Linked DNA regions of Homo sapiens: region 1 is linked to region 2. The links come from fine-mapping of genetic effects on plasma protein levels. A gene starts in region 2. The other region holds a variant in brackets. All regions are shown on one strand. Distances are from middle to middle.

Evidence for each region. A credible set is the group of variants that fine-mapping cannot tell apart. PIP is the posterior inclusion probability: the model's chance that the variant is causal. Protein levels are from antibody-based Olink assays in UK Biobank. Linkage for the fine-mapping came from a reference panel and not from the study's own genotypes, which makes the PIPs less certain.
Region 1: its variant is the best candidate, but not a certain one, in a credible set for the plasma level of the PGLYRP2 protein (UK Biobank, PIP 0.65).

What each region holds. Positions count from the first base shown.
Region 1 is chr19:15,501,905-15,516,646 of GRCh38, reverse strand. CYP4F22 (cytochrome P450 family 4 subfamily F member 22) reads right to left here and starts at 8,122. Exons shown (of 14, transcript NM_173483.4): 1 at 8,064-8,122. It also overlaps the pseudogene LOC100422106. RefSeq lists an enhancer at 7,978-8,478. The variant C/GAC (reference allele first, on the strand shown) is at 6,693.
Region 2 is chr19:15,469,983-15,484,724 of GRCh38, reverse strand. PGLYRP2 (peptidoglycan recognition protein 2) reads left to right here and starts at 5,224. Exons shown (of 5, transcript NM_052890.4): 1 at 5,224-5,414; 2 at 8,117-9,187; 3 at 12,625-12,835. The coding sequence starts at 5,354. RefSeq lists an enhancer at 14,690-14,739.

The DNA.
Region 1 (14,742 bases), 32 kb before region 2:
TAAAATGTTTATTCAGAAATAGAATGCTTGTTCCTCGGTACTGCAAGTAAAAATCAGCATTCAGATAATAAGTTTTCTCAGCAAGGCAATTTTACTTTCTGCATAAAGGGTGCTCCTTGCAGATGGAATAATGGCGAGAGCACACCTGAACAAAGGAGGGAAGCAATTTTTATCCCTTATGCAGTTTGTCCTTGCTACTGTGTCCTGTCTCCATTGGCTGAAGCAAGACCTCACAATCTAAATTAAACCTGACTGGCTAATAATTTAAAACTTTCCTAAATAGGTAAAGGCAATAGAGAGCAAAGGAAAAGAGGAAGTTGCTTACAAAAGGACTTAGAAAAGCAATAATATTTCCAAATAAGGAAAGGGCATGGGCTGCGAGCTGGGACATGCCTGTGAGCACATCCAGCACAGATATCTTGGTTAAAGTACAAGGACGTAGAATGTACTATGTGCCTGTGAGCATGTCTAGTACAAATATCTTGGTTAAAGTACAAAGACATAGAATGTACTTATTCTCTTATATCTAACACATAGTATTGGCAAGGATGTTGAGTCCTGCTATGATATGGCTGCACTAAACATCTTTTTCTTTTTCTTTTTTATTTTTCAAGACCGAGTCTCGACCGGGCGCGGTGACTCATGCCTGTAATCCCAGCACTTTGGGAGGCTGAGGCGGGCAGATCACGAGGTCAGGAGATCAAGACCATCCTGGCTAACATGGTGAAACCCCATCTCTACTAAAAATACAAAAAATTAGCCGGACGTGGTGGCGGGCGCCTGTAGTCCCAGCTACTCAGGAGGCTGAGGCAGGAGAATGGCGTGAACCCAGGAGGCAGAGCTTGCAGTGAGCCGAGATCGCGCCACTGCCCTCCAGCCTGGGTGACAGGGCGAGACTCCATCTCAAAAGAAAATAAAAAAAAGACAGAGTCTCGCTCTGTTGCCCAGGCTGGAGTACAGTGGTGCTATCTCAGCTCACTGCAGCCTTTGCCTCCCGGGTTCCAGCAATTCTCCTGCCTCAGCCTCCTGGGTAGCTAAGATTACCGGCATGCGCCACCACACCTGGCTAATTTTTGTACTTTTTAGTAGAGACGGGGTGTCACCATATTGGCCAGGCTGGTCTTGAACTCCTGACCTCAGGCGAACCATCCACCTCGGCCTCCCAAAGTGCTGGGATTGCAAGCGTGAGCCACCGTGCCTGGCCAGCTGCACTGAACACCTTAAAGTTGCTGTCTGAGTTGGACCAACAAAGTACAGAGATGCCAAGAACAGGAAATGGATCAATGTCTGTGTGTGGGAGGTGCTGAACCTTTTCTGGCCATGAACCATTATAAAATCCCAACATATACACTGAAAATATTAAAACTGCTTTGAAAATTTGGAATTTCTGATACCTCTAGTGGGCCGAGAGACGGTGGGTAAAGGATGTGGGCAGCAGCAGGGAACACAACAGGGGAGGTGGCTGTGGCCGGGCTGGACTGTGCTGGGGTTTGTTGTGACGGCCACTCGGTGACCTGGCTGTCCCTACGCAATACCAGCTGCCTTTGGGGAAGAAGGGCTGCCCAGCCAGCTGGCTCTCCTGGGGCACCAGCAGATCCACGCCCTGGGCACCTTCCTGTTTGGTCTTTTTTTTCCCGTGTGAAAGAAGAAACTGAAAGCATGACCCCTTCTCAAGCTGGCTTAGTTGGGACAAACCCTGGACAGCCACACCAGAGAGAGGCCTTCAACCAGCCCCAGAGCTAAAAGCACCAGAGAAAGTCAAATGCTTCCTATTCAGCATGACCTAACTTCTAGTGTGCCACGGCCCCACCACTTCCTGCAGTGCCCACACCATCACCACTGCTTTCTCTTCCAACAGTGATCTGTATTCTTAGTTTCATTATTTCCTTTTTATTGGTATGACACTATATAAAATTTTCCTCCTTCCTGCCTTCCTTCCTTCTTTCTTTCTTTCTTTTTCTTTCTTTCTTTCTTTCAAGACAAAGTCTCACTCTGTCACCCAGGCTGGAGTGCAACGGCACAGTCTTGGCTCCCTGCAACTTCTGCCTCCCAGGTTCAAGCAATTGTCTGCCTCAGCCTCCCGAGTAGCTGGGCCACCACACCCAGCTAGTTTTTGTACTTTTAATAGAGACGGGGTTTCACCATCTTGGCCAGGCTGGTCTTGAACTCCTGACCTCGTGATCCACCCGCCTCGGCCTCCCAAAGTGCTGGGATTACTGGCATGAGCCACCGTGCCCGACGACACTATATAAAATTTTCATTTGAGAGTTTCTCAACTGTATCTAATTATATCGCACAGTTTGGAAACTTTTCTGAGACTGACTTTATCAATAATCTAACCGACAAAGATCATATCCACGTGTATGTAGTTAGACATTTTTATTTCATTGACTAACCCAGCACCATTTCAGTGATGCAAATTACGTGCCCTATGGTTCAGCTGAAACAGTCCTGGACTTTCAAAAACCTTGAATAAGTCTCCCACAGTTGTATAAATTGGACAATTTAGGAATTTTAAACTTTAGATGATCATTTGCTTCCATTTTTATTTTATTTTTATTTTTGTTAATGCAAACAGGACTTAAACAAATGAACTTTGATCTCCATTTTAAATATTCTTTAAGAAAATCATGTGTCTATACATACGGCTCTTGAGGACTTAGCTTTCACTACACTACAGGATATGATCTCCACATAGTTCACATAAAACTGCAGACTGATTTTCCAGAGTGCTCGATACTATTAATTACATCTCGATTAGGGCTGAAAAGTATGACCTATGTTTCTTTATACAGTTGTGTTGCTTTTGATGTTGTGTTACTATACACAGAAGTGTGTGCACTGGGCCGGGTGCGGTGGCTCACGCCTGTAATCCCAGCACTTTGGGAGACCGAGGGGGGTGCGGATTGCCTGAGCTCAGGAGTTCGCAACCAGCCTGGACAACACGGTGAAACACCATCTCTACTAAAATACAAAAAAATTAGGCTGGGCGTGGTGGCTCACGCTTGTAATCCCAGCACTTTGGGAGGCCGAGGCGGGCAGATCACGAGGTCAGGAGATCGAGACCATCCTAGCTAACACGGTGAAACCCCGTCTCTACTAAAAATAAAAAAAATTAGCCGGGCGAGGTGGCGGGCGCCTGTAGTCCCAGCTACTCGGGAGGCTGAGGCTGAAGAATGGCGTGAACCCGGGAGGCGGAGTTTGCAGTGAGCCGAGATCGCGCCACTGCACTCCAGCCTCGGTGACAGAGTGAGACTCTGTCTCAAAAAAAAAAAAAAAAAAAAATATATATATATACAAAAAATTAGCAGGGCGTGGCAGCATTCGCCTGTAGTCCCAGCTACTCAGGAGGCTGAGGCAGGAGAATCGCTTGAACTCGGGAGGCAGAGGTTGCAGTGAGCCGAGAACATGCCACTGCACTCCAGCCTGGGTCACAAAGCGAGATTCCGTCTCAAAAAAATAAAAATGAAAAAAGAAGTGTGTGCACTGAGGCTCTGTGTGTGGTCCATATGGAAAGCCTGGTACCCCTGCGAGTTAAGTACTGCCTCCATTCATCGTTTACACTGGAGTTTTTCTCCTCATGGAATGCGAGTAAAACTTAGTGTTTGTCACCAATAAATGGTAATACAAAAAAGAGAGAGAGAGAGAGAGAGAAAAGCTTTGAGGACCCAGGAAAAATGGTGGCAGCCTCTGGAAAGGGCCTGAAAGAACTCGGGACAGGGGTGGAAGGGAAACTTAAGTTTACTATCCACTTTTCCAGTCGTTTTGGTTTCCTATACCATGAGCACATGTCACCCATTCAAAAAAAATTGAATCAATTATAAAAATTCATTAGTTTACTGCATGACACAAAGAGTGAATCCTAATGTAAACTATGGAGTTTAGATAATGGAGGAAAGGTATCAGCCAGGTGAAGTGGCTCATGCCCGTAATCCCAGCACTTTGGGAGGCCAAGATGGGAGGATCACTTGAACCAAGGAATTTGAGACCAGCCTGTGCAACATAGTGAGACTCCGTCTCTACTAAAAAACAAAAAAATCAGGCCAGGCATGGTGGCTCATGCCTGTAATCCCAGCACTTTGGGAGGCTGAGGAGGGAGGATCACTTGAGGTCAGGAATTTAAGACCAACCTGGGCAACATGATGAAACCCTGTCTCTACCAAGAAAAAAAGAAATAGCTGGGCATGGTGGTGGATGCCTGTAGCCCCAGCTACTTGGGAGGCTGAGGCAGAGGTTGCAATGAGCCAAAATCTTGCCACTGCACTCCAGCCTGGGGGACAGAGTGAGACTCTATCTCAAAAACTAAAATTAATTTAATTTAATTTAATGTTCACTTTTGACTTCAACAGGCCTGGGTTCAAATCTCAGCTCTCCTATTCCCTAGGTTAGCAGCCTTGGGTGAACCCAGTCCCTGCCATCAGCCTCCCTTTGCCAATCTGTGAAATGGGTTGATAATAACAGGACCTACCCCCTAAGGTTTTTGGGACGGCTCAGTGAAATGAGGCATGGAAAGGCCTTGTCACGTAGCTCACAAAATGTTAGCCATGATGACTACTCCTATTATTGCTATTTGATAGAAGTGAGAGCAATTCAAAGGTGACACCCTCAGAATGTTGTGGGCGGCTGGCATGTCCACTCCCTATCTACACCGGCCCCCGATCTCATCCAGCAGGCCCGCCTTGGTAGAGGTGGCCCTGCCCTGCCAGGGCCCGCATTATCTGGTGGTGGTGAAAGCCAGCGACTGGCTCCGTGTCCCGGCCCACGCCCAGGTCGCGCTGGTTTGTCAGGTTGGCCCAGCCGTTCACCCACTGAGGACTTGTTATACAAGGTGTGTGGGCTCCCAAGAAGGAGTGGAGGGCACGGACCCAGGCCGACGCCAGGTACGAGATACATGCCTCTTCTTGAACTGCAGGGGCTGGGACCAGCCAGGAGCCTGATGGAAGAGCACCCCAACGCTGGCCCCATCACCCCAAATCCCAGCCCTCCTTTTCACTCCAAGCCTGTAGTCAAGGCAGCCTGCCCCCGTCCCCACTGATTCATGGTGCCACCTTGGCTTCCTCAACATCAGAGGGCTGGCTTACCCCAGAGACTCACATATTCCCCCAAAGTGCCAGACCCCAGAAGGCTGGAGCTGAGAGGGGACTTCTAAGTTGTTTTGTTGTTGTTGTTGTTTGTTTGTTTTGTTTTTTAGACATGGTCTTGCTGTGTCCTTCAGGCTGGAGTGCAGTGGTGTGATCTTGGCTCACTGCAACCTCCCCGTCCTGGGCTTGAGTGATCCTCCCACCTCAGCATCCTGAGTAGCTGGGACTACAGGCGCCTGCCACCATGCTCAGCTAATTTTTTTTTAATTTTTTTGTTAAAAAAAATTAATATAGTGCTGGGCGCGGTGGCTCATGCCTGTAATCATGCCTGTAATCTCAGCACTTTGGGAGGAGGGAGGATCACCTGAGGTCGGGAGTTCGAGACCAGCCTGACCAACATGGAGAAACCCCATCTCTACTAAAAATACAAAATTAGCCAGGCATGGTGGCACATGCCTGTAGTCTCAGCTACTCAGGAGGCTGAGGCAAGAGAACAGCTTGAACCCGGGAGGCAGGGGTTGCAGTGAGCCAAGATCACGCCATTACACTCCAGCCTGGGCAACAAGAGCAAAACTCCATCTCAAAAAAAAAAAAAAAAATATATATATATATATATATATGGTATCCCTATATTCCCCAGGCTGGTCTCAAAGTCCTGGGCTCAAACCATCCTCCAGCCTTAGCCTCCCAAAGTGCTGGGATTACAGGCATGAGCCACCACACTCAGCCTGGCTTCTAGGTCTTCAGTCTCCACTCAGCACTCTAAATTTCTAAGGTTCTGAGAAAGAGCTTCAGAGTCATTTATGACTAATGAGGGCAGGGCCAAGTTGGCAAATGTGGTAAAGGAGACAGTCCTATCGCAGCTTTGATCATATTCAAACCTTTTGCTAATAATTTCCTTGGCCCAAAGGGGATCCTGGCAGAAAAAGAAGTTTTAAAACCACTAATAATCTAGACCATTGCAGGGTTGTAATTGTTTCTGCCCACCATCCCAAGTGTGGCCACACCTGGACATGAGCCTCAGAAAAGATTCTATAAAGGTCTGCCTCTTTGCTGTGCGACCTCGGGTGAGTGTCTGCACCTCTCTGAGCCTCAATTTCTTCATCCATTAAGACAGAAGCCCTATTTACCCACCTCATGGGGCTGCAATCTTCCAGGCACATAGTAAGCCTTTGATCAATGATATCTCTCATTACCGTTGGTGCTGCCATCACGTTCATTATTGTGACCTGGCCATCTGGGGTTTGGAGAATCAGGTCCAAGTTTTATCAACAAGGAGAGATGAGTCAGGCGCAGTGGCTCATGCCTGTAATCCCAGCACTTTGGGAGGCTGAGGCGGGTGGATCACTTGAGCCCAAGAGTTCAAGACCAGCCTGGGCAACATGGTGAAACCCCATCCCTACCAAAAATACAAAAAGTAGACAGGAGTGGTGGTGCATGCCTGTAGTCCTCCATACTCAGGAGGCTGAGGTAGGAGGATTGCTTGAACCCAGGAGATCGAGGCTGCAGTGAGCTATGATTATGCCACTGCACTCCTGCCTGGGTGACAAAGTGAGACCCTGTCTCAACAACAACAACAAAAAAAGAAAGAAAGAAAGAAAGAGAGAGAGA[C/GAC]AGAGAAAAGAAAGAAAGAAAGAAAGAAAGAAGGAAGGAAAGAAAGAAAGGAAGGAAGGAAGGAAGGAAGGAAGGAAGGAAGGAAGGAAGGAAGGAAGGAGAGATGGGTCCCATTCCCTGAATGCCTCTCAAGTCATCCAAGCCCCTCTGCAGATACCAACCTGGGTCACCGCCAGACACCAGGCCAGAGTTAATGTTACTGTTCAGAAACCCAAGCTGGGCCATTTGGTGATGCCGGGGACATCGGAAAGTGGACTGAGGCTTTGGGGTCAAACAGGGCTTGTTTTTTCAAATCCCAGCTCTCCCACTGGGCACTGGGTATCCACAGGCACAGGCTTCTTCTCTCTGGCCCTCAGTTTCCGTGCCTGTAAAATGAGGGTGGTAGGGAAGATTTGGGGAGGTTCCTTCTCTTTGGGGTTTGGAGTTACACAAGAAGGAGTTTGATGCTGCCAGCCCTGGCTGGGCACAGCTCCAGGACCTAGAAATAAGGGGTGGAGCAAGGGGCACAGGGTAGGAGGAATTTCGGGTACGCAGCCAGCCCTGGCCATCTCCTTTGCCTACAGGGCGGTGAGACTCACAATGAGTGCATGAATGAGCTGTGAGCGGGCAGATGAACCAGGAGAGATGCCCTGAGCCTAGGCCTCTCCAGCCTGCGACTCCCCAGGTGGCCAGCCTCGGCCAACTTGCATACCCAGGCTGGGCCAGGCCCCTGGGAGGCCAGAAAACATCTTCCTTCCAGCATCTATCAGACGAAGATCACCTGGGACCAACCCCAGGACCTCACACAACCCTCAGAGCCAACTCTCGGGGCCAGAAGAACACCGTCTTTTCATAGAGGGGCTCTGCGTCTGGCATGGATGGGCAGAGGGTTCCTGATAGCAGTTGAACCACAAGCCTAACCCCATCGGTTGAATGTACTACAACCTCCCCGTCAAGACAACGTGCAGTGGTGAAATCTCAGGGCGAATCCCCATTCAGCCCCAAAGAGGCGTCCCAGGGCGGGGCTTGAACCCATCTGGGATGTCCTGACTACCAGAGGGGTCTTTTGGAGGCCCCCTGCCCATCACAGATACCCAGAGAAAAGGATGCGCCTAGGACTCCGAGGCGCACACAGAAAAAAAAAAAAAGAAAACAACTCACAAATGCAGCAAACGTCGGGGACACACCCACGTGCCCCTCTCCCCACGAGTGCCCCGGGCATGCAGCCCCGTCCTGGGTCCTGGGGGGGTCCCCGTGGCCGGCTGCGCCCCGCCCGCCGCCGCGCGCAGACCTTCGCCCTTGCCCCGCCAGCACCGAACCGCGCGAGCCTCGGGTTCCAGCGCAGCGCCGCGGCCGCGCTCAGGTTACAGCCCTCACCACGCGCGCACTCACCCGCGGGTCTCAGCCTCCTGCCCTCGATCCGGATCCACCGGCGCCACTACCTGGGATCTGACCGCGCCGTCCCACGGCCCAACCCTTTAACCCCGCCCGGCCGTGCCGAGGGGTCCGCCCCCGGACATCCCGCCCCGGGCTCCCGCAGGGTTCTGGGCGGGGACTCCAGCGCTGCCCCCTAGAAAAGGAGAGAACAAGAAATAGGCGTGTGGAGGGGTGGAGAGCGATGGAAAGAGAGAGAGACTGAGACTGAGATGGAGAGATGAAGAGAGACAGAGACTTGGACACCTAGAAGTCCCAAACCATCAGGCTCCCCGCCCTCCTGCCACTGCTGGGCCGCATTAGCGCCCAAGTCCCGCTCTGGACCACACTCCTCCCACACCAACACCCCCCATGGCCCTTACTTCCAGGTTTGCTCCCAAGCTTGGACAGCGATCTCTAAACCATCACCCCCTGGGGCCCCACTGACCCCCCCGAGAAGCCTCCTCTGGGGCCCTCAGGAATTCTCTGGCTCCACCAGCCCTTGGGAACCAGCCCTTCCCCTCTCTCTGGATCCTGGGCCTAAGCTTCCCCGGCACCCACCCCTGGAGGCTCTGCAGCCTCTTCCTCCAGGAAGACCTCCAACCTCAACAAGCAGCACCAGACTGGTTCTGCTCCCCGCCAACCCGCCCTCCGCCACTCCTCCCCACCCACTGCCAGACACCTTGACCCTCTGACCAGGATGTTGTCCTTGGCCAACCCGTCTACTCCAGATGTGTGGAGACAGAGTCAGCTCCGCCTCTGGATGTGTCTGTCCTCCGGAGTCGGTGGGTGGATGTGTGGCTGACCTTAGCACGTGGGCAGACAGATGAGAAGACAAGAATCTCCACTTGCCCCAGCAGGTGGTAAACTTAGAAGACTTCCTTATCCCTCTTTTTTCTAAGAATACGCTCTCATTTGGTGCTGGGCCCTTGGAAAGAGGGCGTGGGAGGTGTGGGGCATGTCTCCTGGTGAAGAAGAGGAGACACAAGTAATTGAAGTTTTGCTGCTTGGAGGAGGCAGACATGAGGTCAGGGAAGGCGACGTGGAGGATGTGACACTTGAGCTGGGACTGCATGGAGAGGTTGGATTTCAACAAGTGCAGGAGAGGGGGTAGAGCTCAAGCACAGAGAAACTGGAGGGTGTGACTTAGCAGATGGCTTTCCCTGGCCTTGGAGTGTGAGAGGTGTGGAGGCTGGAGGGATGCAGGAGTTGACTGTGAAGGCCAGTTTGAATGGCTGGATCTTGATCTGGTGGGCAGTGGGGAGCCATGGATGGTGCTTGAGTAGGGGAGGTGCCCCCTGTTAGTTGATTGGTCTCACTCTGTCATCCAGGCTGGGGTGACTCCTGGGCTCAAGCCATCCTCCTGCCTCAGCCTCCTGGGTAGTTGGGACTACAGACACGTGCCACCACACCCAGCTAATTTTTTTTTTTCATTTTTTTAGAGACAGGGTCTCACTATGTTGCCCAGGCTGGTCTCAAACTCCTGGGCTCAAGCCATTCTCCCAGCTCCTAGAACTTTTAAAAAAAAATATTTATATTTATTTGTGTCTTTAATCTTTTTTACTTCTGAGGAAGAGCTTATTTTATTAATTTTTTATTCATAATTAACGCAGCATGAAAGCCTATTTTTTAGGGATATGAATTTTGTTTTGCCAGTAATTCTGGCCAAGGGGGAGCTTACTAGAAGCACTTTGGAAAATGCAGAGATCCACATAGAGTGAAGTTTGAGAGGGACCCCTCCAGTGGCTGCAGGGGACAGAGACAAAGGGTGGGGGTAGCTGAGACCCAGGAAGGGGTTAAGGATGAGGTCCCGGAGGTCATCTCCACTGACCACTGGCTAAATACGGGGTTCTAGGGAAGAGAGAAGGAAAAGAAGCCATCTGCCTGGCTTCTCTGCTCTCAAAGAGCTGGAGACCAGGAAGGAGGAGTAAGTGAAAGGGCCTGGAGCACTAAGAGTGGGCTTCGTGGATGTGTGGCCTTGAGCTAGTCACATGGCTGCTCTGAGCCTCCATCTCCCTATGCATAAAATGCAGAAGAAGCCCATGTGATGAGGTGGTGTTCAGCCCCACTCCTGGCACAGGGCACAGGCTGGACAAACATCAGCTGTTTGAGTTTGCAGTTGATTGGGGCCATCCCAGCAGAGTAGAGTTTTCCGCCAGGGAATGTTTAGCAACATCAGGAGATCATACTGCTGGGTGGGGGGTAGAGGTGGGGGTGGGGGAATTCAGGGTGGTGCAACTGACATCTAGTGGGTGAAGGCCAGAGATATTATTCAACATCCAGAACACCCCCACCCCCAAAGAATAATCCAGGCTCAAATGTTGACAGTGCTAAGATTGGGAAACCGTGGGTCACCTTCAGTCTAAAAGTCTCGTGGGTCTCATGGGATGACATTCAGGGAGACATCCAGGAGGCAGTTGGGCTCAGCGTGAGGGCACCTCCTGAGAATTGCATCTGTGAGTCACCTGCCTTGGGAAGACGGTGGATGGCATGGCAGTAGGTCAGCGAGATCACTCAGGAGGGAGGTGGGCAGAGAAGAGGAGGGGAGGGCAGAAGTGGGGATCACAGCCACTTTTTTTTTTTTTTTAAGATGGAGTCTCACTCTGTTGCTCTGTTGTCCAGGCTGGATACAGTGGCACAATCTTGGCTCACTGTAACCTCCGCCTCCCGGGGTCAAGCGATTCTCCTGCCTCAGCCTCCCGAGTAGCTGAGACTACAGGTGCCCACCACCAAGCCCGGCTAATTTTTGTATTTTTAGTAGAGACGGGGTTTCGCCGTATTGGCCAGGCTGGTCTCAAACTCCTGACCTCAAGTGATCCACCTGCCTTGGCCTCCCAAAGTGCTGGGATTACAGGCATGAGCTGCCGTGCCTGGCCTTTTATTTTATTTTTTAATCAAACAGAGTCTTGCTCTGTCACCCAGGCTAGAGTGCAGTGGTGCTATCTTGGCTGACTGCAACCTCCACCTCCCGGGTTCAAGCAATTCTCCTGCCTCAGCCTCCTGAGTAGCTGGGATTACAGGCTTGCACCACCACGCCCGGCTAATTTTTGTATTTTTAGTAGAGACAGGGTTTTGCCATTTTGGCCAGGCTGGTCTCAAACTCCTGACCTCAGAGATAATAGCTACATTTATAGAGAGGACAGGCAGCAGCACTGAGCTGGAGCTGGAGATGGAGTTTGAGAAGAGTGGTAGTAGGGACCATCACTGGCACCTAGACGTCAAGGAACCCAAGCTCTAGAGCTGTGTGGTTCCCATGCCACCAGAGCCCTCAGCCTGCCACAGCCCAGGGCTCAGTGGGGTGAGGTTGAAGTGGGAGGGGAGGAAGTGGAGGCTGTGGCTGGACTTGGGAAATGGTAGTAGAAAGCTGTCTGGGAGTGGATGTGGCAGGTCATGGCAGGGAGTCAAAGATAAAAAGAAGAGGGATCTCGCCATACCCTGCTGGTGGCAACGTAAAATGGTTCAGCCACAGTGGAAAACAGTTTGGGAATTTCTCAAAAAGCTAATCAGAATTACCATAGGACCCAGATATTCCACTCCTAGGTATACACACACAATAACTGAAAACAAGTACTTGCCAGGTACAGTGGTCTACAGCTGTCATCTCAGCACTTTGGGAGGCTGAGGCAAGAGAGCATCACTTAAGCCCAGGAGTTCCAGACTAGCCTGGGGAACAACATAGCAAGACTTCATTTCTACAAAATATAAAAAATTAGCTGGACATGATGTGCGTACCTATAGTCCCAGCTACTTGGGAGGCTGAGGTGGGAGGATAGACAGCTTGAGACTGGGAGGCTGAGATTGCAGTCAGCTGAGATTGTACCACTTCACGCCAGCCTGGCTACAGAATGAGACCCTGTCTCAAAAAAAAAGAAAAAGAAAGAAAGAAGAGACAGAGAGAGAGAGAGAGAGAGAGAGAGAGAGAGAGAGATAAAGAGAAAGAAAGAGAAAAGAAAACAGTTACTCACACGTAATTGTAGAGGAGTGCTCGGGATAGCACGATTTATTATAGCCAAAGGTGGAAACAACCCAAATTCCACCAACAGATGAATGGATAAACAAACTGTGGTCCATCCATACAATGGAATATTACTCAGTCATAAAAAAGAATAAAGGCCGGGCGAGGTGGCTCTTGCCTGTAATCCCAGCACTTTGGGAGGCCGAGGCAGGTGGATCACCTGAGGTCAGGAGGTTGAGCCAGCCTGGCCAACATGGTGAGACCCTGTCTCTACTAAAAATACAAAAATTATCTGGGCACGGTGGCGGGCACCTGTAATCCCAGCTACTCGGGAGGCTGAGGCAGGAGAATCGCTTGAACCCGGAAGGCAAAGATTGCAGTGAGCCAAGATCGCACCACTGCACTCCAGCCTGGGGGACAGAGTGAGACTCCGTCTGAAAAAAAAAATACAAATAAAAATAAATAAAACCCTGATCCATGCCGCAATGTGGATGAGCCTCATAAACATTGTGCTGAGTGAAAGAAACCAGACACAAAAGGTCACACAGTGCATTATTACATTTATATGAAATATTCAGACTAAGTGAATTCACAGAGACAGAAAGTGGAGTAGTTGTTGCCAGGGGCTGGGGGAGGGGGGATGGAGAGAGAAGCCCATACCCAGGGGGAGTGGTTATAGGACCTCCTTTTGGGGTGACAAAAACACTGGAACTAGATAAAGGTGATAGTTGCACAACATTGTGAATGCACTAAATGTCACTGAATTCTACACTTTAAAGGGTTAATTTTATGTTATGTGAATTTCACCTCAATTTTTTTTTTTTTTTTTTTTTTTTTTTGAGACAGAGTCTCACCTGTTGCCCAGGCTGGAGTGCAGTGGTGCGATCTCAACTCACTGCAAACTCCGGCTCCTGGGTTCAAACAATTCTCGTGCCTCAGCCTCTCAAGTAGCTGGGATTACAGGCCTGTGACACACAGCCAGCTAATTTTTTTATATTTTTAGTAGAGACGGGGTTTTGCCATGTTCGCCAGGCTGGTCTCAAACTCCTGGCCTCAAGTGATCCTCCCTCTTCAGCCTCCCAAAGTGCTGGGATTACAGGCATGAGCCACTGTGCCCGGCCTCACCTCAATTAAAATAAATACTTTATATATATATATATTATATATATATAATAATTATATATATATAATATATAATAATTATTATATATAATATATATAATAATTATATATATAATTATTATTATTGGGAGGTCGAGGCAGGAGGATTGCTTCAGTCCAGGAGTTCAAGACCAGCCTGAGCAACATAGCCAGACCCCATCTCTAAAAAAAATAATTTTTTGTAAAAATTATAAAAAATAACAAATTAGGCATAGTGGTACATGCCTGTAGTCCCAGCTACTCAGGAGGCTGAGGTGGGACGATTGCTTGAGCTCAGGAGTTTGAGGTTTCAGTGAGCTACAATTGCACCACTTCACTCCAGTCTGAGCAACAGAGTGAGACCCTGTCTCTAAAAACAAAAGAGGGCCAGGCGCGGTGGCTTATGCCTGTAATCCTAGTACTTTGGGAGGCCGAGGCGGGCAGATCTCCTGAGCTCAGGAATTCGAGACCAGCCTCGTCAACATGGTGAAACCCTGTCTCTACTAAAAATACAAAAATTAGCCGGGCATGGGGGCTCACGCCTGTAGTCCCAGCTATTCGGGAGGCTGAGGAAGGAGAATCACTTGAACCCGGGAGGCAGAGGTTGTAGTGAGCCAAGATCGTGCCACCGCACTCCAGCCTGAGTGACAGAGTGAGACTCCATCTCAAAAAAAATAAAAATAAAAAAGAACTCGGCAGGAAACAGACCGAACACTTAAGTGGAGTAATTTGTAGAGAGTTTAATAAAAAGCACTATTTTCAAAGGGATAGTGCAGCACACCAGGGGCTGGTAACAGCTGAAATTAGTTACCACCCCTAGGACCTGGGGCCAAGGAACTAAAGTTGCTAGAACCTGGACCAGACAGGGCTATGCAAAGAGGTCCACCTGTCAAGAGTTCTGAACCTCCGGTGGAGGGACACAGCCAGCCTGCATGGAAAGAAGATGAGTTACAAATAACCTAACCTCACTTTCCTCCCTCCCTCCAATGCCTGCTATGGCTCCCTGCTGTTTCAACCCAACTGGAAGCCACAAGACAAAGGAGCTCATTGAGTGGTCCATATACATCAGCCTCCTGGGACACAAAAACAGTGAGGCAGAAAAGTGGAAACAGAACAGGTGATATCAGAGATTTCAAACAAAGAAAGCAACACAGCTGGGCATGGTAGTTCATGCCTGTAATCCCAGCACTTTGGGAGGCCAAGGCAGGCAGATCACCCGAGGTCAGGAGTTCGAGACCAGCCTGGCTAACATGGTGAAACCCCGTTTCTACTAAAAATACCAAAAAATTAGCTGGGCATGGTGGCACGCACCTGTAATCCCAGCTACTTGGGAGGCTGAGGCAGGAGAATTGCTTGAACCTGGGAGGTGGAGGTTGCAGTGAGCCAAAATCATGCCATTGCACTCCAGCTTGGGCAACAAGAGCAAAACTCCGAAAAAAAAAAAAAAGAAAAAAAGAGAGAGAGCGAGAGAAAGGAAGGAAGGAAGGAAGGAAGGAAGGAAGGAAGGAAGGAAGGAAGGAAGGAAGGAAAGCAATTCAAAGGTGAGAGGCAAGTGGGGTGTTA
Region 2 (14,742 bases):
GCTGCTCTGCCTATGGAGCAGTCATTCTTTATTCCTTCACTTTCCTAATAAACTTGCTTTCACTTTACTCTGTGGACTCACCCTGAATTCTTTCTTGCGCGAGATCCAAGAACCCTCTCTTGGGGTCTGGATCGGGACCCCATTCCTGTAACAGTAGTAGCGAGCGGGGTCTTCATTATTAGCATCATTAGTGCCACCATAGTGAACGCTGTCGACTCTGACGTTGAGCCCAAGCCCAGCCCTGCCCCAAGTTCCTTCTCCTCTGGCCTCATCCCAGCCTTGCTTAAGATCTAGGGCCAGAGGCTCTGCCTATCTGTGCCAATGCTACAACTCATGAGAGCCGGCCCTGCTCCATAATCAGTGGCTACTCTTGTGACCCCTCTAGTCTCTCTGCAGCCTGGAGGGGCCTTGATTTTTTTTTTTTTTTTTTTTTTTGAGACAGAGTTTTGCTTTTGTTGCCCAGGATGGAGTGCAATGGCGCGATCTCAGCTCACCGCAACCTCTGCCTCCCGGGTTCAAGCAATTCTCCTGTCTCAGCCTCCTGAGTAGCTGGGATTACAGGTGCATGCCACCACACCAGCTAATTTTTGTATTTTTAGTAGAGACGGGGTTTCATCATATTGGTCAGGCTGGTCTTGAACTCCTGACCTCAGGTGATCTGCCCGCCTTGGCCTCCCAAAGTGCTGGGATTACAGGCGTGAGCCACCGCACCCGGCCAAGGGGCCTTGATTTATCTGACAAGTGGGCCTCCTGAGGTTGAAGGAAACCTGGGGTAGAGGTGATTCATTGTGGGATTTCCAGCCTTCTTTCTGCCTCCCAGGCCCAGCCCAGCCCTGATGCATTGGTGTGTGAGTGCCTGAATGTGGGTGTACATGTGTGTGTTTCAGATCCTGACCCCAAACTGGCCCCACATCATTCATCAGGCTTTTTGTGCATTTAGCAATCCCTCCCTGACACTCACTTGGTCTTGAGTCTGTGCTGGGCACTTCTGGACAGCCCCAAAAACTCAGCATCTCCTAGATTTGGGGAGACAAAACTGGACAAAGAACCTTCCAGCACTGTAAGCACAGCCTAGGTTGAAGGGAAGAACAGCAGGTCAGGGAGCTGGGAGGAGTAAGGGGAGCAAGGGGTAACCACAGAGGCTCCCTGGAGGAAGGGTCCTGCCCCAGAAGGTCACAAATCCTACATAGACCCTAAGGAAAGAGCCTGCCATCCATGACATGCCCCTGGCTTAAAACAAGGCAGTCTCTGCCCCAACTCCAAGCTTTAAAGGGAAATCAGGTGGGGTGCAGTGGCTCACGCCTGTCATCCCAACACTTTGGGAGGCCAAGGCAGGTGGATTACCTGGGGTCATGAGTTCAAGACCAGTTTAGCCAATGTGGTAAAACTCCATCTCCACTAAAAATAGAAAACTTAGCTAGCCTTGGTGGTGCATGCCTGTAGTCCCAGCTACTCTGGAGGCTGAGGCGAGGGAATCACCTGAACCTGGGAAAAAAGAAGAGTTACTAAGAAAATCGTATGGAAGAGGAAGTATGTTTACTATTCATTAAGTAGAAGTGTGTCATCATAAAGGTCTTCATCTTCATCGTCTTCATGTTGAATAGGCTGAGGGGGAGGAAGGGAAGGGGTTGGTCTTGCTGTCTGAGGGGTGGCAGAGGTGGAAGAGGTGGAGGAGGTGGAAGGGGAGAGAGGAGAGGCAGACACACTCCATGTAACTTATTGGAAAAAATCCACGAGCCAGGTGCAGTGGCTCATGCCTGTAATCCCAGCACTTTGGGAGGCTGAGGTGGATGGATCACCTGAGGTCAGGAGTTCGAGATCAGCCTGCCCAACATGGTGAAACCCCATCTCTACTAAAAATACAAAAATTATCCGGGCATAGTGGCAGGTACCTGTAATCCCAGCTACTCAGGAGGCTGAGGCAGGAGAATCGCTTGAACCCAGGAGATGGAAGCTGCAGTGAGCTGAGATTACGCCACTGTACTCCAGCCTGGGGGACAGAATGAGACTCTGCCAGAAAGAAAGAGAAAAAGAGAAAGAAAGAGAAGAAAGAGAAAGAAAGAAAGAAAGAAAGAAAGAAAGAAAGAAAGAAAGAAAGAAAGAAAGAAAGAAGGAAGGAAGGAAGGAAGGAAGGAAGGAAGGAAGGAAGGAAGGAAGGAAGAAAGAAAGAAAGAAAGAAAGAAAGGAAGAAAGAAAGAAAGAAAAAAGAAAGAAAGGAGGGAGGGAGGAAGGGGGGAGGGAGGGAAGGAAGGAAGGAAGGAGAAGGGAAGAAAGGAGAAGGAAGAGAAGGAAGAAAATATGGAAGAGGAAGTATATTTACTATTCATTAAGTAGAGAATCATCATAAAGGTCTTCATCCTCACCGTCTTCATGTTGAGTAGGCTGAGGAGGAGGAAGAGGAGGGGTCTTGCTGTCTCAGGGGTGGCAGAGGTGGAAGAGGAGGAAGGGGAGAGGAGAGGCAGGCACAGTCCATGTAATTTTTATTGAAACAAATCCAGATATAAGTTGACCCTCACAGGTCAAACCCATGTTGTTCAAGGGTCAACTGTACTCCGTATGACACTCTAGTGGTGGACATATGTCATTATACATTTGTCCAAACCCATAGAATGTACACCACCAAGAGCAAACCCTAATGGAAATGATGAACTTTGGGTGATAATGATGTGTCAGTGAAGGTTCATCGATTGTAACAGATATACCATTCTGGTGCTGGATAGTGATAATACGAGAGTCTGTGCATGTGTCAAGGCAGGGAGTAGAACTCTCTGTAACTTCTGCTCAATTTTGTCACGAACCTAAAACTGCTCTAGGCCAGGCATGGTGGCTCACGCCTGTAATCCCAGCACTTTGGGAAGCTAAGGCAGGAGGATCCCTTGAGTCCAGGAGATGAGACCAGCCTGGCCAACATAGCGAGACCCTCATCTCTATAAAAAATTAAAAATAGAGGCCGATGCGGGTGGATCACCTGAGGTCAGGAGTTCAAGACCAGCCTGGCCAACATGGTGAAACTACATCTGTACTAAAAGTACAAAAATCAGCCGGGAGTGGTGACGGGGACCTGTAATCCCAGCTACTCGGGAGGCTGAGGCAGGAGAATAGCTTGAACCTGGGAGGCAGAGGCTGCAGTGAGCCAAGATTGTGCCACTACACTGCAGCCTAGGCAACAGAGCGAGACTCTGTCTCAAAAAAAAAAAAAAAAAAAAAAAAAGCCTGTAATCCCAGCACTTTGAGAGGCCAAGACAGGTGGATCACCCGAGGTTGGGAGTTTGAGACCAGCCTGGCCAACATGCTGAAATCCCGTCTCTACTAAAAATACAAAAATTAACTGGAAGTGGTGGACGGGCACCTGTAATCTCAGCTCCTTGGGAGGCTGAGGCAGGAGAATCACTTGAACCTGGGAAGCAGGGCTGCAGTAAGCCAAGATTGCACCACTACACTCCAGCCTGGGTGACAGAGGGAGACCCTGCCTCAAAAAATAATAATAATAAAATAAAAAATAAAGCTGGGTGCAGTGGCTCACGCCTGTAATCCTAGCATTTCGGGAGGCCGAGGCAGGAGGATTGCTTGAGGCCAAGAGTTTAAGACCAACCTGGCCAGCATATCAAGACTCCATCTTTAAAAATAATAATAATAATAAAACTGTTCTAAAAAAGTCTTAAAATTATTTATCGGCCGGGCATGGTGGCTCACGCTTGTAATCCCAGCAATTTGGTAGGCCAAGTTGGGTGGATCACCTGAGTCAGGGGTTCAAGACCAGCCTGGCCTACGTGGCAAAACCCCGTCTCTACTAAAAATACAAAAATTAGCCAGGCATGGTGGCGCATGCCTGTAACCTGAGCTACTTGGTAGGCTGAGGCAGGGAGGCAGGAGAATTGCTTGAATCTGGGAGGTGGAGGTTGTAGTGAGCTGAGATCGTGCCATTGCACTCCAGCCTGGGTGACAGAGCGAGACTCCGTCTCAAAAAAAAAAAAAGTTATTGATGACTTAGATTTTCAACACTGCCTTAAATTTTGCGGCAAAGAGGATGCCTCAACCTAGTCCCTGCCTCAGCCCACAACCTTCATATGGTTCTACCAGGCAAAGCTCCTATCCCCAAATCCTGGGAAACGAGCTTGGAGGAGGACATTGTCTCTTACTCCCATGGGAAGTGTCCCCCATTCACTCTATCACTTAGCACCCTACATCCTGAGCTTCCACTATGTGCCCAGCTTTTTTCTGGGAGGTCCCCAGAAAGAGGACACCTGAGGAGGCCCCAGGGGTGGCCCCCAGGGGAATCCCAGGCCTGGCTCAGGCTGGACATTCCCAGGCCTGCCCTGGCTGAGTCTCCAGCTGGTGGGTCTCCTGGAAACTCCCCGGGCTGGTTTTGAGGTGGGAGCCCCACAGGGAAGCAATTTACATACACAACAGCCCAGTCATGTCAACCTGCCCCATCTGATGCCAGAATAAAGGGGAGATGGGTCCATTCTGCAGGTCTCAGTCATGGGCACCCGGAGAAGAGGAAGGACATTTCACTGTCAGCCCAGGTGAGTCCAGAAGCCAGCTCCTGGAACAATGCCAGGGTCCTGAACACTCAAGCTCAACCCCTGCTCTCAGCTACTGCTGGTGGCTTGAAATCAAGGGCTGGAACTGGATGAGAGGTGACAGCCCCTGGTCCCCATGGGCTCAGAGCAGGCCTCAGCAAACACTGTCCTCGGCCCCTGCACCCATGCTCTGCCTGAGCCTGAAGTGTTGGTTGCAAAAAAAAGCAGGAGGCAGTGCCAACTTCAGGCCTCAGCAAACACTGTCCTCAGCCCCCGCACCGATGCTGTGCCTGAGCCTGAAGTGTTGGTTGCAAAAAAAAGCAGAAGGCAGTGCCAACTTCAGGCCTCTGCTTCTCTCCTCTCCCTCAACACAGCCGGTCTTACCAGTACAGCAGGCGGCAGCTGAGAGTCCCCTCTGGTGGCCAGCAGCGGCTACAGAGCCGTCACTATGGGGAGGGACAGGACTTGAGGGGTTGCCTCGGTCCACCTCACTGGAGAATGGGCAGAGTTTATGGAGTCTGAACCACCTGGTCTCCAGGCCCCTCTGGGGATGGGCCTGGCTTACTGACCACTGACCTCAGCCTAGGAGGGACAGAAGAGACTGGGGGAGACCAGGATGCCCAGATGACCTTGACCCAGGGTACGCTGCCCCATGTCCCTGCTGCCTCCCGCCCACAGCTCTACGAGAGGCAGGTCTGTCATTCGCCGCTGGACTTTGACAGTGGTCAAAGGCTCTGCTCAGTTCTCTGTGCCTGTCTCCCTCCAGCACTGCCGAGGTTCTCTGCCGAGGCCAACCAGAAATACCCCTTGGAAGCTGGAATCCTGCAACAATGGCCCAGGGTGTCCTCTGGATCCTACTCGGATTGCTACTGTGGTCAGACCCAGGGACAGGTGAGTCAGGGGGCAGAGTCCTGGGACCAAACCTCTTGGCTCTGCAGAAGGCGTACTGCTGTCCCATCTATGTCTTGCCCTGCATGGAGTGAGGCTGGAGACTCAAGCTCTCAAAGAAGCTCCAGCATGGGGACATAGATATTCCCAGCTCCACAGAGTCAAGGCAAGGATAAGGGAAGGAATCTGGGGCCTGGAGAGCAAAAGTAGGGAAGGCTTCTTGGAGGAGGAGACATAAGAGCTAGGCTAGGAAGAAAGAGAAATGATTTGGGGGAGAAGCCAGAAAGGGCATTTTTTGCAGAGAAGAGCAAAGCTACACAGGTTAGGTGGTGGACTGGAGAAGAACCTAGATTCTAGACCAGGAGAGTGTGTCGAGTAAGACTTCCTGGATTCAAATTCTACTACTGGCCAGGCCTGTAATCCCAGCACTTTGGGAGATCAAGGCGGGCAGATCACTTGAGATCAGGAGATCGAGACCAGCCTGGCCAACATGGTGAAACCCCATCTCTACTAAAAATACCAAAAATTAGCCAGGCGTGGTGGCAGGCACCTGTAATCCCAGCTACCCAGGAGGCTGAGGCCAGAAAATTGCTTGAACTCAGGAGGTTGCAGTGAGCTGAGCACTACTGCACTCCAGCCTGGATGATAGAGCAAGACTCCGTCTCAAAAAAAAAAAAAAAAAACAAAGGCAAATCCTGCCTCTGCCACTTCCTTCCTGTGTGACCTTAGGCAGGTAACTTAACCTCTCTGTGCTTCAGATGCCTCATCTGTAAAGGGACACCATCTTAGTCCCTTTGTGCTTCTATATAGGCCAGGGTACCTGAAACTGAGTAAATTTGTAAAGAAGAGAAATTTACTTTCTTGCAGTTCTGCAGGCTAGGAAGTCCCAAATGCCAGTGCTTTGATCTTGGACTTCCCAGCCTCTAGAACTATGAGAAATAAATGTCTGTTCTTTTTTTTTGTTTTTTAGACAGAGTCTGACTCTGTCGCCCAGGCTGGAGTGCAGCAGCATGATCTCAGCTCACTGCAACCTCCACCTCCCGGGTTCAACAGATCCTCCTGCCTCAGCCCCCCAAGTAGCTGGGATTACAGGTGCCCGCCACCGCACCCGGCTAACTTTTGTATTTTTAGTAGAAACGGGGTTTCACCATGTTGGCCAGGCTGGTCTCAAACTCCTGACCTCAAGTGATCCGCCTGCCTCGGCCTCCCAAAGTGCTGGGATTACAGGCATGTGCCAGCACACCTGGCCAAATTTCTGTTTTTCATAAATTACCCAACCTCAGAGATCTGTTATAGCAGCACCAATGTACTAAGACAGGGGCTAAAAGGACCTACCTCACAAGAGTTGTGAAGACTAACTGCGTTAAATTATTAATATATAAGTCACCTAGACTAGTAGCTAGCACATAGTAAATGTTTACTGAAAGTTAGCTATTATTTGATAACCCATCTCTGAACCAGCTCTGAGCCTAACTTAGCATTTCTAGGTTTGCAGTTCAGCCACTGACATTTCCCCAACATGGCACAAGCCCATCCTGCTCTTCCCCCTGCCTCCCAGGCTATTTTATTTTATTTTATTTTATTTTAATTTAATTTTATTTTATTTATTTTATTTTATGATGGAGTCTCACTCTGTCACCCAGGCTGGAATGCAGTGGGGGGTTCTTGGCTCACTGCAACCTCCACCTCCTGGGTTCAAGCAGTTCTCCTGCCTCAGCCTCCTGAGTAGCTGGGGTTACAGGTGTGTGCCACCATGCCCAGCTAATTTTTGTATTTTTAGTAGTGACGGAGTCTCGCCATGTTGATCCGGCTGGTCCTGAGCTCCCGACCTCAGGTGATCCACCCGCCTCTGCCTCCTAAAGTGCTGGGATTACAGGCGTGAGCCACTGCGTCTGGCATTTTTTTTTTTTTTTTTTTTTTTGAGACAAAGTCTCACTCTGTCACCCAGGCTGGAGTGCAGTGGCGCAATCTCGGCTCACTGCAACCTCCACCTCCCATGTTCAAGTGATTCTCCCGTCTCAGCCTCCCAAGTAGCTGGGATTACAGGCACACACCACCATGCCTGGCTAATTTTTGTATTTTTATTAGAGATGGGGTTTCACGGTGTTGGCCAGGCTGGCCTTGAACTCCTGATCTCAGGTGATCCACTCACCTCGGCCTCCGAAAGTGCTGGGATTACAGGCCTAAGCCACCACAGCCAGTCCCAGGCATCTTTCAAAATACCTTTCCCTCTAACATCCCCAATTTTTAACTTCAATTCATCACAAAAGACCATCCATCTCTCCCTCTCACGATCTGGGGACTCTTCCACTTTTGTCCACTGCAATGTCACTACCTACCTTCTGCCACCTTCATCTCTCACCTCCACACTGTCTCCCCTTTTCTATCCTGGCACCCCAAAAATCCATTTCCTTATGGCAGCCAAACAAATCTAAGCCTAAGAAAGGAGTCTTAGAATGCCAGGTTCGTCACACCTCTGTCCTGCTCATAAATCTGCCATGGCTCCCCAGTACTCACAGACAGTCTGAGCTCCTTAACCAACAGGCAATAGTCTGTGTACCTCACTTTCCTCATCTACACAAGGATAGTGTTGGGGGTCATGGGGTTATCAGATGGAGGGCTGGGAGCATTGGGTAGATGTGGAATCAATACAAGGAGGCTCAGGAATGGGTGGGGCTGGGCTAACACATTCTTTCCTCCTGCAGCCTCCCTGCCCCTGCTCATGGACTCTGTCATCCAGGCCCTGGCTGAGCTGGAGCAGAAAGTGCCAGCTGCCAAGACCAGACACACAGCTTCTGCGTGGCTGATGTCAGCTCCAAACTCTGGCCCCCACAATCGCCTCTACCACTTCCTGCTGGGGGCATGGAGCCTCAATGCTACAGAGTTGGATCCCTGCCCACTAAGCCCAGAGCTGTTAGGCCTGACCAAGGAGGTGGCCCGACATGACGTACGAGAAGGGAAGGAATATGGGGTGGTGCTGGCACCTGATGGCTCGACCGTGGCTGTGGAGCCTCTGCTGGCGGGGCTGGAGGCAGGGCTGCAAGGGCGCAGGGTCATAAATTTGCCCTTGGACAGCATGGCTGCCCCTTGGGAGACTGGAGATACCTTTCCAGATGTTGTGGCCATTGCTCCAGATGTAAGAGCCACCTCCTCCCCAGGACTCAGGGATGGCTCTCCAGATGTCACCACTGCAGATATTGGAGCCAACACTCCAGATGCTACAAAAGGCTGTCCAGATGTCCAAGCTTCCTTGCCAGATGCCAAAGCCAAGTCCCCACCGACCATGGTGGACAGCCTCCTGGCAGTCACCCTGGCTGGAAACCTGGGCCTGACCTTCCTCCGAGGTTCCCAGACCCAGAGCCATCCAGACCTGGGAACTGAGGGCTGCTGGGACCAGCTCTCTGCCCCTCGGACCTTTACGCTTTTGGACCCCAAGGCATCTCTGTTAACCATGGCCTTCCTCAATGGCGCCCTGGATGGGGTCATCCTTGGAGACTACCTGAGCCGGACTCCTGAGCCCCGGCCATCCCTCAGCCACTTGCTGAGCCAGTACTATGGGGCTGGGGTGGCCAGAGACCCAGGGTTCCGCAGCAACTTCCGACGGCAGAACGGTGCTGCTCTGACTTCAGCCTCCATCCTGGCCCAGCAGGTGTGGGGAACCCTTGTCCTTCTACAGAGGCTGGAGCCAGTACACCTCCAGCTTCAGTGCATGAGCCAAGAACAGCTGGCCCAGGTGGCTGCCAATGCTACCAAGGAATTCACTGAGGCCTTCCTGGGTGAGGAAGTTCCCCACACCCTGTGATCCTTCCCATTACAGACACAGACGCCCCCACCCCGTATATTCAGGGAAGTTGAGGACTAGGAGAGTCCAGAGGGGGCAATAAGGGATCTGGTCGGGGGTGGGTGGGACAGCTGCACAGGTGAGGAAATGCCAGAGTTGGGCCTTGAAGGATGAATAGGAGTTCATCTCATTTTGTTTTGCTTCATTATATTTATTTGCATTAATTTATGGGGTACAAGTGTAACCTTGTTTCTCGCATAGATTGCATAGTGGTCAAGTCTGGGCTTTTAGGTACCCATCACTCCAATAACATACATCCACCCATTAAGCAATCTGTCATCATCCTCCCTCCTCTCTCTCCCTCACCCTTCTGAATCTCCACTATCTATCTTTCCACACGCTACATCCATGCATACACATTATTTAGCTCCCATTTATAAGTGAGAACTTACGGTATTTGTCTTTCTGTGTTTGACTTGTTTCACTTGAGATAATGGCCTCCAGTTCCATCCATGTTGCTGCAAAAGACATTCTTTCTTTTTTTTTTTTTTTGAGTCTCTCTCTGTCGCCCAGGCTGGAGTGCAGTGGCACGATCTCAGCTCACTGCAACCTCCGCCTCCTGGGTTCAAGCAATTCTCCTGTCTCAGCCTCCTGAGTAGCTGGGACTACAGGCATGTGCCACCATGTCTGGGTAATTTTTTGTATTTTTAGTAGAGACGGAGTTTCATCATTTTATCAGGGTGGTCTCGATCTCCTGACCTCGTGATCCACCCACCTTGGCCTCCCAAAGTGCTAGGATTACGGGCGTGAGCCACCATGCCCAGCCAACATTATGTCATTTTTTACAGCTGAGTAGTATTCCATTTCCTGCCGACCACTGTAGACAACCTCCTGGCAATCACCCTAGCTGGAAACCTGGGCCTGACCTTCGTCCAGGGCTCTCAGACCCAGAGCCATCCAGGCCTGTAATATATATCATATTTTCTTTATCCAATTCTCTTTTGATGGACAGTTAAGTTAATTTCTTACCTTTGCTATTGTGAATAGTGCCCTGATCAACATGTGAATGCAGGTATCTTTTTAATATAATGATTTATTTTCCTTTGGGTAGATATCCAGTAGTGGGATTGCTGGATTGAATGATAGTTCCAATTTATTATTATTTTTTTTGTTTTGTTTTGTTTTGTTTTGTTTTTAGACAGAGTTTCACTCTTGTCTCCCAGGCTGGAGTGCAATGGCACAATCTCGGCTCACTGCAACCTCCACTTCCTGGGTTCAAGCGTTTCTCCTGCCTCAGCCTCCTAAGTAGCTGGGATTACAGGTGCCTGCCACCATGCTCGGCTAATTTTTGTATTTTTAGTAGAGACAGAGTTTCACCATGTTGGCCCAGGCTGGTCTCAAACTCCTAACCTCAGGTGATCCACCCACCTCAGCCTCCCAAAGTGCTGGGGTTACAGTCGTGAGCCATCACCCGGCTTTTCTGTCTTTTTAATAATAGCTATTCTGATTAGAGTAAGATGATATCTCATTGTGGTTTTAATTTGCATTTCTCTGATGATTGGTGATGTTGAGCATGTTTTCCTTTGCCTATTGGCCATGTGTATATCTTCTTTTGAAAAATGTCTATTAATGTCTTTTGCCCGCTTTTTAGTGGGTTTCTTTCTTTCTTTCTTTTTCTTTCTTTCTTTCTTTTTCTTTCTTTCTTTCTTTCTTTTCTTTCTTGAATTGTTTGAGTTCCTTGTAAATTCTGGGTATTAGTCCCATACCAGTGCATAGTTTGCAAATATTTTCTCCCATTCTGAAGGTTGTCTGTTCGTTCTGTTGATTATATCTTTGGTGTGCAGAAGCTTTTTGGTTTAATTAAGTCCCATTTGTCTACTTTGTTTCTTTTGCTCTGTGCTTTTGAGGTCTTAGTCATGAATTCTTTGCCTAGCCCAATGTTCAGAAGCGTTTTCCTTAGGTTTTCTTCTGGTATTTTAGAGTTTCAGGTCTTACATGTAAGTCTTTAATCTATCTTGAGCAATTTTTTTTTTTTTTTTTTTTTTTTTTTTTTTTTTTTTTTGAGACAGAGTTTTTGCTCTGTTGCCCAGGCTGGAGTGCAAAGATGTGATCTCAGCTCACTGCAACCTCTGCCTCCTGGGTTCAAGCGATTCTCCTGCCTCAGCCTCCCACATAGCTGGGATTACAGGTACCTACCACCATGCCCGGCTAATTTTTGTATTTTTAGTAGAGACGGGGTTTCACCATGTTGGCCAGGCTGGTCTCAAACTCTTGATCTCAGGTGATCCACCCACCTCAGCCTCCAAAATTGCTGGGATTACAGGCGTGAGCTAGCGCATCTGTCCTTGAGTTAATTTTTGTATATGGTAAGAGTTAGGGGTCCAGTTTCATTCTTCTGCATATGGTTGGCCAGTTGTCCCAGCACCATTAGCACCATTTACTGAATAGGCAGTCCTTTTCCCATTGCTTATTTTTGTCGACTTAGTTGAAAATTATTGTTTGTAGGTGTGCAGCTTTACTTCTGGGTTCTCTATTTCATTCCATTGGTCTATGTGTCTATTTTTGTAACAGTACCATGCTGTTTTGGTTACTATAGTATTGTAGTATAATTTGAAGTCAGGTAATGTGATACCAGGCTCGTTTTGCTTAGAATTGCTTTTGCTATTTGGGCTCATTTTTGGTTCCTTGCGAATTTCAGGATAGTTTTGTCTAATTCTGTGAAAAATGACTTTGATATTTTGATAGAGATTGCATTGAATCTGTAGATTGCTTTGGGAAATCTGATTTCTCTTTTTCTAGAAAATGAGGTCTCACTATGTTGCCCAGGCTGGTCTTGAACTCCTGGGCTCAAGCAATCCACCCACCTCGCCTCCCAAAGTGTGGGATTGATTACAGGAGTGAGCCACCATGCCTGCCCCCACCTCCAATTTTTTTTTGGGGGGGACAGAGTCTTGCTCTGTCACCCAGGCTGGTGTGCAATAGCACAATCTCGGCTCACTGCAACCTCCACCTCCCAGGCTCAAGCAAGTTGTCTCATGCCTCAGCTTCCCAAGTAGCTGGGATTACAGGCATGTGCCACCATGCCTGGTTGATTTTTGTATTTTTAGTAGAGACCGGGTTTCACCATGTTGGCCAGGCTGGTCTCAAACTCCTGACCTCAAGTGATCCACCCACCTCGTCCTCCCAAACTGCTGGGACTACAGGTGAGACCCACTACGTCCGGCCCACCCCCAATTTTTTTTAATAAAAATAAAATAGATTTAGTTGAGTATAGTTAGTTGGTCCCCAGGGAGGACCAATGTGGGGTGAGACTGGACCCTTTCCAAATCTGAGAGGAGGCTGAGGGATGGTCTGTATGTGCGCTTTAATGCGGGTGGAGGAACAGGCAGAGAAACAGTTCCTGACCCCAGCCTTCAACCCCCTTGCCTGTAGGATGCCCGGCCATCCACCCCCGCTGCCGCTGGGGAGCGGCGCCTTATCGGGGCCGCCCGAAGCTGCTGCAGCTGCCGCTGGGATTCTTGTACGTGCATCACACCTACGTGCCTGCACCACCCTGCACGGACTTCACGCGCTGCGCAGCCAACATGCGCTCCATGCAGCGCTACCACCAGGACACGCAAGGCTGGGGAGACATCGGCTACAGGTAGGAGGGGCCCGACCGGGGAGGGGGCGGGGCCCACGTTCGGGGATGGGGTCTGAGTGGGCGGAGCCTGATGCAGGGGACCGGGCTTGAACCCGAGGAAAGCTGGCAAGACCAAGGAGGAGTCCTGATAGGTAGAGCAAAGTTGGAGAGGTGGCGTGGCTTAGGCTAGGGGCGGGGCCTTAATAGGGACCGGGAATAGCTAAATCATGGGACTCCAGTCAGGGTAGAGAACTAGTACAGGAGGCGGGATCTGGGAGAGGAGCGGGACCTGTGGCAGAGTCTGGGTCTGGGGCCAGGCAGAGATGGCCTAAAACAGACAAGGAGGCCTGGTGCGGTGGCTCCCGCCTGTAATCTCACCACTTTGGGAGGCTGAGAAGAGAGGATCGCTGGAGCCCAGGAGTTCGAGACCAGCCTGAGCAATATAGGAAGACACCCCCCCACACCACCCATCTCTACAAACAAAAAAAACTTAAAAAGGCCAGGCGCAGTGGCTCACGCCTGTAATCCCAGCACTTTGGGAGGCCGAGGCGGGAGGATCACGAGGTCAGAAGATTGAGACCATCCTGGCTAACACGGTGAAACCCCGTCTCTACTAAAAAATACAAAAAAATTAGCCAGGCGTGATGGCGGGTGCCTGTAGTCCCAGCTACTTGGGAGGCTGAGGCAGGAGAATGGCGTGAACCCGGAAGGCGGAGCCTGCAGTGAGCCGAGATCGCGCCATTGCACTCCAGCCTGGGCGACAGAGCGAGACTCCGTCTCAAAAAAAAAAAAAAAAAAAAAAAAAAAGCTGGGCATGGTGTTGCGCGCCTGTAGTCCCAGCTACTCGGCAGGCTAAGGTGGGAGGATCGCTGGAGCCCAGGAGTTCGAGGCTTGAGTGAGTTATGATCGCATCTCTGCACTCTAGCCTGAGTGACAGAGCGAGAACCCGTCTCGAAAAGAAGAAGGAGGCCGGGAGCGGTGGCTAACGCCTGTAATCCCAGCACTTTGGGAGGCTGAGGCGGGTGGATCACCTGAGGTCGGGAGTTCCAGACCAGCCTGGCCAACATGGAGAAACCCCGTCTCTACTAAAAATACAAAATTAGCCGGGCGTGGTGGTGCATGCCTGTAATCCCAGCTAGTCGGGAGGCTGAGACGGGAGAATCACTTGAACCTGGGAAGCGGAGGTTGCAGTGAGCCGAGATCGCGTCGTTGCACTCCAGCCTGGGCTACAAGAGCGAAACTCCGTCTCCAAAAGGGAAGGGAAGGGAAGGGAAGAAGGGAGGGGTGGCGAGGGGAGGGGAGAAGGCTGGGCACAGTGGCTCACGCCTGTAATCCCAGCACTTTGGGAGGCCGAGGAGGGCAGATAACCTGAGGTCAGGAGTTCGAGACCAGCCTGGCCAACATGGCGAAACACCGTCTCTACTAAAAATAAAAATTAAAAAAAAAATTAGATGGGCGTGGTGGCGGGTGCCTGTAATCCCAGCTACTCCGGAGGCTGAGGCAGGAGAATCGCTTGAACCCGGGAGGTGGAGGTGGCAGTGAGCCGAGATCGCGCCCTTGCACTTCAGCCTCAGCGACAAGAGTGAAACTCCATCAAAAAAAGAAAGAAAGAAAGAAGGAAGGAAGGAAGGAAGGAAGGAAGGAAGGAAGGAAGGAAGGAAGGAAGGAAAGAAAAAAAACCCAAAAACAGAAAAGCTCTCTGAATTGGGCAAGAACTGGGCTTGAGAAAAGGCAGAGGTGGGGAGGAGAAGGGCAGAAAGGGGCGTGCCAGTACTGAAGGGCGGATCCAGAGAAACCGAACGGTCCTGGAGTGGCAGCTGGTGTGAGAGTGGAACAGAGCTGGATGGGACACAGGCAGCGCGACCGCGCGGGTCTTGGGGTCGGTGGCCCTTGGCACACCAACAGAATCGGGGAGGGGAGCGGATAAG